Regions from separate parts of the Homo sapiens genome. Here region 1 is linked to region 2. The links come from fine-mapping of genetic effects on gene expression. A gene starts in region 2. The other region holds a variant in brackets. All regions are shown on one strand. Distances are between the middles of the regions. Region 1 has its middle 27 kb from the start of FOXB1. Region 2 holds the start of FOXB1 (forkhead box B1).

What was found.
Region 1: its variant is fine-mapped to the expression of FOXB1 in blood mononuclear cells (TOPMed, PIP 0.95).

Annotation. Positions count from the first base shown.
Region 1 is chr15:59,974,198-59,979,576 of GRCh38, forward strand. No RefSeq gene overlaps it. Among named protein-coding and RNA genes, the nearest start is that of FOXB1, 27 kb to the right of the region's middle. The variant A/G (reference allele first, on the strand shown) is at 2,379.
Region 2 is chr15:60,002,045-60,007,355 of GRCh38, forward strand. FOXB1 (forkhead box B1) reads left to right here and starts at 2,267. Exons shown (of 2, transcript NM_012182.3): 1 at 2,267-2,599; 2 at 2,863-5,311. The coding sequence starts at 2,920. The coding sequence ends at 3,897. RefSeq lists enhancers at 1,948-2,463, 4,280-4,359, 4,440-4,559 and a silencer at 4,566-4,860.

The DNA of each region.
Region 1 (5,379 bases), 28 kb before region 2:
TTGTGAATGATGTAAAACTTTAACAGTGTCAATCATGGCAGTCTTTCCAGATGATTCTGAATGCCTCGCCAAGCTTTACACGACTGAAGAAAATTGCCTTCCATGAAGTGGTACCCAAAACTCCAGCCCTAATTAGTGCATCTAATTCAGTAAAGCTTTGTCCTCTTAAGCGTTGCTATCACTTTGCTAGCCATAGATTAACATCTAGGTAGTGCAGGTGCTTTAGCGCCACCCTAGAATCAAGCAACATGCATAAAGCAATCTTAAACACAGGTCCAGAAAGAAGCATGTATTTCTTATAACAGTACCAGCCAGAAATAGTTTTTTCTAGATGCCTTTCCATTCCAGGCCTAAGCTAATGTCACCCTTGCTTGTTGGCAGGACCATTTAGCCCACATGGTGGAGAGCAGTGTATGTTTCTCTAGTACATGCCATTATTTATTGACTATCTGCCTCACTTGCATCTGTGAGATGTAGAAACTCACCAGTGGTTTCCAAGGCCATCAGTTTTAAACGGCACCATCCATCACAAAATGGAAAGGAGTGATCAACGTTCCCTGAACTGCAATGCATTATACGAGGGTCAGCAAGTGGGAGTCATGGTTGGCGACACAATTGCTGGCCTCAGGTAGCATATCCATCCTTCCAGCTGTTCTGATCCATATGGGTTCAATGAACTGCAGAGAGTGCAGGACTCTTCTCATTGAGAGTATCTGCTGTAAGTCTTTCATCCAAACCTCATCATAACAAGTGTAAGGGAAGCTGACAACCATTTATCTAAACTTCATCTGGTAGCCAACTGCTGACAAAGAGGAAAACATGCACATTAGTGAGCAGACAGATGTGATCAGGGAAATTAAGGTGTTCTTATCTTGAAGAAACCAAAGATTTTAAATATAGGGAAAAAAATTTAGTCATTACGTCAATGCCAGATAGAAAGCCACTAGTGCTGTTTTCCCTGCTTAGTAAATTCCAGGGCTGTCCCCAGTAGTCCTGACACTCAATTTCTTATAACACAGAGCTATTAGGATAATATTATACAAACCTTCAGTTATCAAAATCAAGATTCTTGCTTTAATTTCTAGGGCCTAGAAATGGATTTCAAAATAGTAAATATTGCCTTTTTTCCTTATATTTTGGGTCCCAGTTTTAACTTTGCCCCAGACCAGCAAATTTTTCACCCCAGGAATTTCTTATTGATATTTGACGTATAGCCTATGTAAAAAGTTAAAATATATGATGGTGTATAAGTAAAAAATCCCTGGAATGCTTCCTTAACATCTCTGACCTTCGTATTTTCATCTGTACAATGTGGATCACGATAATTGTACTCCTCTTAACAAAGTGGTTCTCAAAGAAGGGTGATTTTCATCCCTCATGGGACAACTGACAAAGTCTGGAGACATTTTTGGTTGGCACAAGTAGGGGGAGGGGAGTGCCACTGTGCCACTGGCATCCAGTGAATAGAGGTCAGGGGTGCTGCTAAACATGCCACAGTGCACAGGACAACCCACAACAAAGAACTGTCCAGCCCAAAATGACAATAGTGCCAATGGTGGGAAACTCTGCCTTAACATCATGTGGTTGTTGTAGAAATCAAAGCAGATGCCTAGTGAAAAATGTTATGAATAGTGATAATCGTAATAAGATGTCTTAATTTGTAGCTTGTCTGTACGTTGCAATGCAAATTAGACTCTTATAAATGAAGCATAAAATGTGAAGGACAATAATTGCCAAAGAAAAAATCTTCATTGAAAAATATAAGGGTGGAATTGTGGTGACGCAGAGGCTGCCCTAATCACACCACTAAAAGCTTGGAAGTTGGCCTGGGTAACCAAGATCGCATTGCTCTCTCCACCAGGAGCTCAGGAGAATCATCCACCATCTCTGGCAGTGAAATCAGCTGCGAGGCTGGGGGATAAGTTCTGGAGCAAGGTCCACTGGGCTGGATTCCTCTGTAATGGGTGATCGAGTGGCATGTAAAGTACAGGGCCAGCTGTCTGATCTTGGATTATGCCTCATGAAGGGCTCTCAGGATCAAAGGACTGGTGAAGTATCACTGGTGAGGCCACACTGGGATAGGAGTTAATGGGCAGAGTGACTGGCAGGCAGGGATATGTCAGAAGGGAATGGAAAGCACAAAATTGCCAAATATATTATTCTAAAATATTATTATTATTATTCCCAAATATCTTCCTTTGGTAGTGGATCAGGTCATGGCCTGTTTGCTCTCAGATCTATTATTTGTCCTTCCCTGCTCTGCTCAGTCTAGGGGGCTGGGGAGGCTTGCAGGCTGCCTTCCATATGCCCCCATGTCAACGGGCATTTTACAGTGTTTGGCTAATGAGAAATAGGAGGGCAGAAGGAAGAGAGAAGCC[A/G]GAGGACCTCTTCCGTTCTCTGCTTCTGGTGCCTGTCGGGTATCACGTTCTTGCATCACCTCTTTAGTATCAGTGTCTATCAGAATGGTCTTCTGTGGTTTCAGCTTCCATCAGGTGCCCCCAGCCTCTGAGCTGTGGTAACACCACTTCCTCCACTCCACTTCCTCCCTTTGTCCCTCCAGTCTAGGCGTGTAGCTTCCTGCTACTGCTAACCTCTGTGTTGCTTTCTTGTGCTCTTTTCATCTTCTCAGCTCTTTCTGCACCTGTGTAACCTGTTCTTTGCACTAAATAAATTTCCTCTGATTTAAGAAGAGTGATTCCTTCTTTCTGGTTGGACCTTGAACGAAGGTCCTATTTTGATATTTTTTAGAGTAGAAGGTGGGGTACAATAGTGTGACACCTGGAACTCATGGTTATGCAGGTACAGCAAGAGCAAGGAATCAAAAGAATACAGAAGCAGCTGATATTCATCTACTTAACAGGTATTTGTTGAGCACCTACTATAAACTGGAAATTGTGCTGGGTATAGAAATTTGTTTTGAAACAAAAAATGCACTGCTTGTAACTTTCAACAAGTAATAACATAAAGAACTACAAAATTACTATATAATAGTGAATTGCTCTACTTAAGATATTTAAAAGCCATTTAAGAAGTCTGGCAACTCAAATAAATGCAGGAAACAGCACAAACCTTTCCATCAAAATAGCAGTTGAGCCAAAGTTCAGACTTAATATATTGGAGACAGAAGTTATAACTCTCCAGGTTTATCATTTCTAATATGAATATCATTAAGCCGCGTTTCCAAACCCCCAAATAATAGCCAACCCAGCTACATTCTGTTCCTTAGAGTGATGCTTGGGGAGCAACGTATTTTTGAAAAGATTCTTTTCCAGTTTAAAGTCATATATCAGAACCAAGAAGTATGAATAGGCCTTGGATTCGAAGTTTGCTGGATGGTTAAGCAAGCTTGTTAGGCAACCAGCTACGTCGGAATATTTACATAGAGAAAGAAAGAGCAGTTTTAAGACCGGCTGATGATTCAAGACATAAAATACATTTATTCTGTGAGCTGTTTGGGGGATATAGTAAAACATAAATATAACTGAAAACCTAAATTGTTGAGCCAACTGAAGAGACTCAGAATCAAATTCTATTCATATACATTTGCATGGCTTCCCTTGAAATCAACAGGCACTACATGTATACCTAAGGGCATTATATTTACATATTTTGCCCATTGCTGGCTTGGAGTAATTTTTTCTATAATAAGAATAGAAGAGAAGTTTATAGTTCACTCGCTGTTTTCATCTCTTTGTTCCAGTGTATTTCACTAAATACAAAAGAGTCTCACGAAGTTTTCATTGCTGTTGAAAAGGTAAATTGAGGCACTCATAAAGTAAATTGTCCCCAAATTGTCTTATAAATCACTGGCTGATTAAGAAATCCAAAATTTTAATTTGACACGATGCCACCCTTTCTGAAGATACAAGAATGATCAGATTTTCTCTGTGTAATAATACGTGTGGGCTTAGAAAGCACAATACTTCATTAAATTCCTTTTCTAGATATAAACACAAAATAGAATTCTTAAGAAAAAAAATAAAACCTTTGGTGTGGCATAGATTTTGTTTAAGATGCACTTTATTTAAACAGAGATAGTTAACATCAGTGGCTGGTTAGCAGCTGAATAATTACATTAAATATATTCACCTCAGTGAAGACTGAAAACAAAGAGATAGTAAGTAATTTTTTTTACAAGTACCCTGCTGTCATAGCAGCTGATCATGTTTAATAGCAACCAGTATTTCCACTAATTTTGCAAGAAAGACATGTTGGAGATAATTTCATCTTCTAGAGTAACTGTAAATAATCTTCTCAGAAGTGAGTTTACAATGACACCATATAGCATAACCACCAGCGAACAACTTGGAAACGTAATTTTTAGAACTGTAGTATTTGCAAATTAAAGGATTAATGTTAACTTCAGTCAACAGGGAAAATAAACTTGATGAGTAGAATACATTAATATCAAATCAGGTTTGTAGATAACATATACGTTTCATGCGATATCCCAAGGTGTCTGGGTGTCGCACTTTCTTTCTCAAGAGAACCTCAAAGGAAATCACTATTCATTCTAATTGTATCATTTTAATATTCATCTTGTAAACAATGCAACATTTTTGCATGAAGTTAAAAAAATTCAGGTCACTTTTTAAAATAAATCTTCAAGGAACTGGGGAATTAGAAAATCTAGTTTATTTTTTAATTGATAACAAAGAACATCAGAGGACCACAGGCATCATGACATCATGGTTTTCTTTTTATCATTAAATACAATTATGTAAACGGGAAGACTCTGCAGTTATTCCCCAAAGTAATATACAAACTCTAAAATGCAGGATGTTCACATAGCATAAATATAAACAAAATGAAAATTAAAAGCTATGAATTTTTTAAAGTTTGACCTATTGTGTAGATGTCAGTTATGTTATTTTGATAATTAACAAGCAAAAATAGGGCCAGAAAAACATAAGAATTTCAATAGTCCAAAACATGATGACAACCAGCAGAATTCAAACTTTTTTTTCAGATACAAGAATAATGACCCAATACTTTTTTTTTTTTTTTTTTTTTTTTTTGAGATGGAGTCTCGCTCCGTCGCCCAGGTTGGAGTGCAGTGGTGCGACCGCAGCTCACTGCAAGCTCCGCCTCCCGGGTTCACGCCATTCTCCCGTCTCAGCCTCCCAAGTAGCTGGGACTATAGGCACCTGCCACCACGCCTGGATAATTTTTTGTTTTTGCATTTTTAGTAGACATGGGGTTTCACCGTGTTAGCCAGGATGGTCTCGATTTCCTCACCTCGTGATCCGCCCACCTCAGCCTCCCAAAGTGCTGGGATTACGGGCATGAGCTACCGCGCCCGGCCGGCCCAATATAGTATTAAAAGAAATGTAACCATCCCTTCCTGTAGGTGCTCTACAATTTCTTAATTATCATCAT
Region 2 (5,311 bases):
TTGTACCGAGGCCAGCTGTACTCGGGAGCAGGAAAGCTGTGGACCAGCGCCTTTCCATTCTGGGAAACACAAGCCTTGCCCACTATTCCTCATCACGGATCTCCCAAGCTCCCCAGCTCTTTGGACTCCCCAGCTCCTTCCTCCCCAGGACCTTCGATCCGAATCTGGCCGCACAAAGTAACCCCCCAAACGCCGCACCTCGTTATGACCTGAAGCGCGAGTAGCTGGGATGAGTACGGCTGCCTCCGGCCAAAGCTTGGCAGAGGTTCCACCCGAGTCCAAGTGGTTTATCTGCTGAGAAGGGCAATACATTTATCTGCCCTTCTCGAGCCATACCCCCAGAGACAGGTCAACATCCCTCCCCCAGCCCCTCGCACCCATCTCCTCCTCCCAGTTATTTTTTCCGAATTAAGAAGGTGACATTATTCTTTTCTTCAAGCACTTCTGTTAATATTGAAAAACGTGCGCTTGCATCTCAACCGAGGCAGCCCAGAGCCAGAGCCATTTCAATATTAATGAAATTGTTTAATCTCCTAAATTCATCGTGTTTAAGTTACGTTTTGGTGAGTTATTGACCGCCTCCGAAACTGTAGTTAATGAAGTTGTGTGTGTGTGTGTTTGTGTGTGTGTGCATTCGCGCGCTGAAAGATCTTTTTTATGCTAACCCCAAACAGCTCCACTAATAATGCTCTAATATCACTTAAAGTGTTGAAACTTAACACCCAGAATTCTCTACGATCACCACGTCTAGGGAAAAAAAAAGTTCTCCCATTTCTGGACTTTGAAGATGATTCTGTGTGGGCTGTAAGTATTGAGTTTTTAACAACGCAGTAAAATGAATGTCTTTTAAAAACCTTAAAGGTCGGAGAATGTGCAGAAACCCGTGGGAACTCCTGGTGTGTACTTATAGAGTGCGTGCATGCAGGCGGGGTCGACTCACTATTTATTTCATAGCAATTTGATGATGATGATGATGACGGCAGCGACGACGATGAGGATAATGATAATAATAATAATGATTCATTTAACCCTTCCAAGGCGAATCCGAACCGAAGGGAGCCTGCTGCTCGCACCAGGCGGAGTGACCCAAGGCACATTCCCCGCTCCCCAAGAAGGAAAACTCTATGGTTCTTTCCCCAAGTTGTAGAAGATACTGCTGTCTTAGTGGGATCGCAGGCGGCTTTTGCTACACTCTAAATCCTAAATAAGTTCTCCATACCAAAAAAAGCGGCAGTTGGGGGATGGGGGGTGGGAGGTTGGGGGGGTGGGAGGGCTGGGAAGGGGAGTTCCGGGTGTAAAATGAAAACTTCCAGGATGTGCCTGAGTCCTAAAGTTTCAAACCACCTGGGAAAAGCGAGAGCCCCTGAGGCTTACCTGGTGATAAACTGTGTCAAACAAACTCAGGCCCTCCCCAGGTCCGCACAACATTTGCCCCAACAGCTCCTGAGCCTCCATCCTGTGTCCAACCAAATTCCCGGAGGACTTTTAAAGCAAATACCTGGACTCTTCGCCCAGATACACTATTTTAATTTTTAAAAATTTGGTCAATACAGTTACATTCAAAATGGGTTCTTACATGGGGATGTCCAATCACATTTTGAAAGTATTTGTAAACCCCATCACTTTTTCAAAGCTACACACTAACTATACAAAGCTGAAGCAGCTGCATAGGAAAGTCAAGTCAAATTTCGACCTAACTCTCCGGGGACTGGGGGGCAAGGGTGTGTTTTCATTATTATAACCCATGCAACCAACCCCGGGTAGTGCTAAGCGCAGGAAAAGGGTCGGCTTCAGGGGAAAGCCGTGCCTAAAGTTACCTAACGATACAAACCGGATACAACGCAGAGGAAACAGAATACCCCAGCCAAGCAATTTCCATGTCAAACATCATCCGCGCGGCTGCTCCATCTGTGAACGTGAGTGGTCGCCTGGCTCCCTCTTCCGCGGCGGCCGCTTCCTCATACCTTCACACGGCGCACACCGGCCGGCGCGTCCAGCTGCCTGCCCAGTGGCCGAGGCTCTTCCCCCTCGCCCAGTCTTGAGCTGGAAGTGATTCCTATTGGCCAAGGTGTCCATGTAAATAGGTGTGAAAGAAACCAGAGCTGGCCGGGCTCTCCCTTCTCGCTCAGTCCCCTCCCTCTGCAGCCCCCGCTCCCCCTCCTCTTCCTCCTCCTCCCAAGGCGATTGTCATATGATAGCTAAGAAGTGGCACATTAATGAAGCGCCGCTACAGGGGTCTTTTCTGCTCCTGTCACCGCTTAAAACTATCAGATGGTTCGAGGGAGGACATGGAGGCAGCCACCTAGCTCAGCGGAGACGCGGAGCCCACAGCAGCGCCCTCCGGAGCCCTAACACGTCGCTGCCACCATCCGCGCCGGGACTCCGCAGCCGAGCTCGGCCGCCCGCAGGACGCTCCAGGAGCGTCGCGGACCGGGCGGCACGGGACGCTGCGGGGCTGAGCTCAAGAGCCCAGGTTCGCGCCGAGTCCAACCGGACCCGGACGCTGCGCGCGGAGTGCGCGTCGAGTGCGCGCCGAGAGAGAAGCGGCGCGCAGCGGCGTCCTCCCGGATGCGGACGCGCAACTTGAAGCAACTTTAAGGTGAGCAGCTCTCTGTTCCGTCCCTGCCCCCTATTCTGGCCCCAGTACCGACTTACTTCCCGGCTATCCTCGCGCCGTTCGCCGGCTTCCCCTCCCGCGCCCACTAAGCCCGCAAAGTTGCTGGCGAAAGAGTCCGGGCGCTGGCTGATCGAGCGCCGCAGGCCCCACCCCCGACCCCCGAAGTCTGTTACTCGGTCTGGCTGACCCCGCCGGTGTCTCTGTGCATCCATGCTACCTTTCCCTATTACCCACCCCCTTCCCAGATCCGAGCAGTCCGCCGGCCCGCGCGGACCCAGAGCAAGAAGAGGGCGAGGAAGAAGATGCCTCGGCCCGGCCGCAACACGTACAGCGACCAGAAGCCGCCCTACTCGTACATCTCGCTGACCGCTATGGCCATCCAGAGCTCTCCCGAGAAGATGCTGCCGCTGAGCGAGATCTACAAGTTCATCATGGACCGCTTCCCCTACTACAGGGAGAACACGCAGCGCTGGCAGAACAGTCTGCGCCACAACCTCTCCTTCAACGACTGCTTCATCAAGATCCCGCGGCGGCCGGACCAGCCAGGCAAGGGCAGCTTCTGGGCGCTGCACCCAAGCTGCGGGGACATGTTCGAGAACGGCAGCTTCCTGCGGCGCCGCAAGCGCTTCAAGGTGCTTAAGTCCGACCACCTGGCGCCCAGCAAGCCAGCCGACGCGGCGCAGTACCTGCAGCAGCAGGCCAAGCTGCGGCTCAGCGCGCTGGCGGCCTCGGGCACGCACCTGCCACAGATGCCCGCCGCCGCCTACAACTTGGGCGGCGTGGCGCAGCCCTCGGGCTTCAAGCACCCCTTCGCCATCGAGAACATCATCGCGCGGGAATACAAGATGCCTGGGGGGCTGGCCTTCTCCGCCATGCAGCCGGTGCCCGCTGCCTACCCGCTCCCCAACCAGTTGACTACCATGGGCAGCTCGCTGGGCACCGGCTGGCCACACGTGTATGGCTCCGCCGGCATGATCGACTCGGCCACCCCCATCTCCATGGCGAGTGGCGACTACAGCGCCTACGGCGTGCCGTTGAAGCCGCTGTGCCACGCGGCGGGCCAAACGCTGCCCGCCATCCCCGTGCCCATTAAGCCCACGCCGGCCGCCGTGCCCGCGCTGCCTGCGCTGCCAGCGCCCATCCCCACCTTGCTCTCGAACTCGCCGCCCTCGCTCAGCCCCACGTCCTCGCAAACAGCCACCAGCCAAAGCAGCCCCGCCACCCCCAGCGAAACGCTCACCAGCCCGGCCTCCGCCTTGCACTCGGTGGCGGTGCACTGACCCGCAGGAGCCCACGCCCCCTCTCGTTCTCCTCCCCACCACCTCACTCGCCTTCCCTGGCTCCCAGTCCTGCCGGCCCCCACCTGGGACCGCCACCCTAACTTGTTCATTTCACCTTCGGCCAACCCGCCTTGCCCCAAGAGAACTTTGTTTTGGACCCAGGAGACCAAACACAAACTTGCAGATGGGCCGAGAGGCGCGTGGGAGTTGTCCTCGCCCCCACATCAAGGAAGGCCGGGGCCACCTGAGCCGAACCATCCCCTCCCTGAGGCCCCGAAACCCCCTCCTATTTGACCGGCGGGGGAAACCCTGTCACCCCCTCTTCGCCGAGAAAAGCGCGTCTTCCCTCCGCCCAGATCGGCGGAGCCCCGAACTCTGCGCAGTTTCAAGACTAGAGAAACTGCCTCAGATGTTTCCAGGAACAGATCCCCCCCACACCCCCTCCCCGCGAGGGCTGCAACAGCGCAGGGGAGGGCCGGATCTCTTTACGTCTTGGAAATCTGCAGCAAAAAGGAGCCACTAATCTTCCTACCCCACTCGCCTCCGCCCATCCGGCAGGGGCTGGGCCGACCACAGCTTCCCGGGGTTGCGGCCCTGCCTCCTAGGCTTCTGCGGAGATTTTGTTGTTGTTTGGGGTTTTGTTTCCTTCCAGAGGCTCCAGGCGCTGGGAGTTAGGAAAGAGGCTGCCAAGCTGAGAAAGCGACGCTCGTCCTCACACAGCAAAACAAAACTAAAAGTAACCTTGTATTGTTTACAAAGCGCCCAGTAATATGTAAACAGTGAACTTGAATCTGTCTTGCTAGGCGGACGAACGGGCAAAGCCCACATTATAAGTACCTGTTGTAATGTGAATGTTTACTCTTCATTTCTGGCCAGGTTTAGAAAGGGAGGGAAGTGGGGATGGGAAAGTTAATTGGGATGTTAACTTTCCGATGACTTAGAGACCTTTTTAGCTATTTATTTTATTGTTGGGAAAAAAAAAAAAAAAAAAGAAGGAAAGAAAATGAAATAAGCCCAAACCAAGAAAGCATCAAGGGCAACCCGGGAAGAACTTAGATAAGCTGACTGGTAACATGAAGGGATGTCACCGGATAGCTCTCCCACGGACAAGTCTTTCTGTTTGCTACCAGAACTTTTCCAAGAAGCTAAAGGGCTGCAAAGAGATGTAAATACTTGTGAATAGGAATGATTATACACTGTGTAAAATGCACTTTTGTTTGCTGTATTCCTTTAGAATCTTAGATAATTGGCTGGAAAACGAACTGTTGTTCTGGTGTGACCTGCTTAAGTTAAAAAAAAAAAAAGTTGTAGTGTCATCAGAGCTGTAAAATTTTTACCTTTCATTTTCCCTCCCTGTACAGAATTAGCGTGGCATTTTAAATATTGATGTTCTTGTTCCCAGCATGCCTGTTTT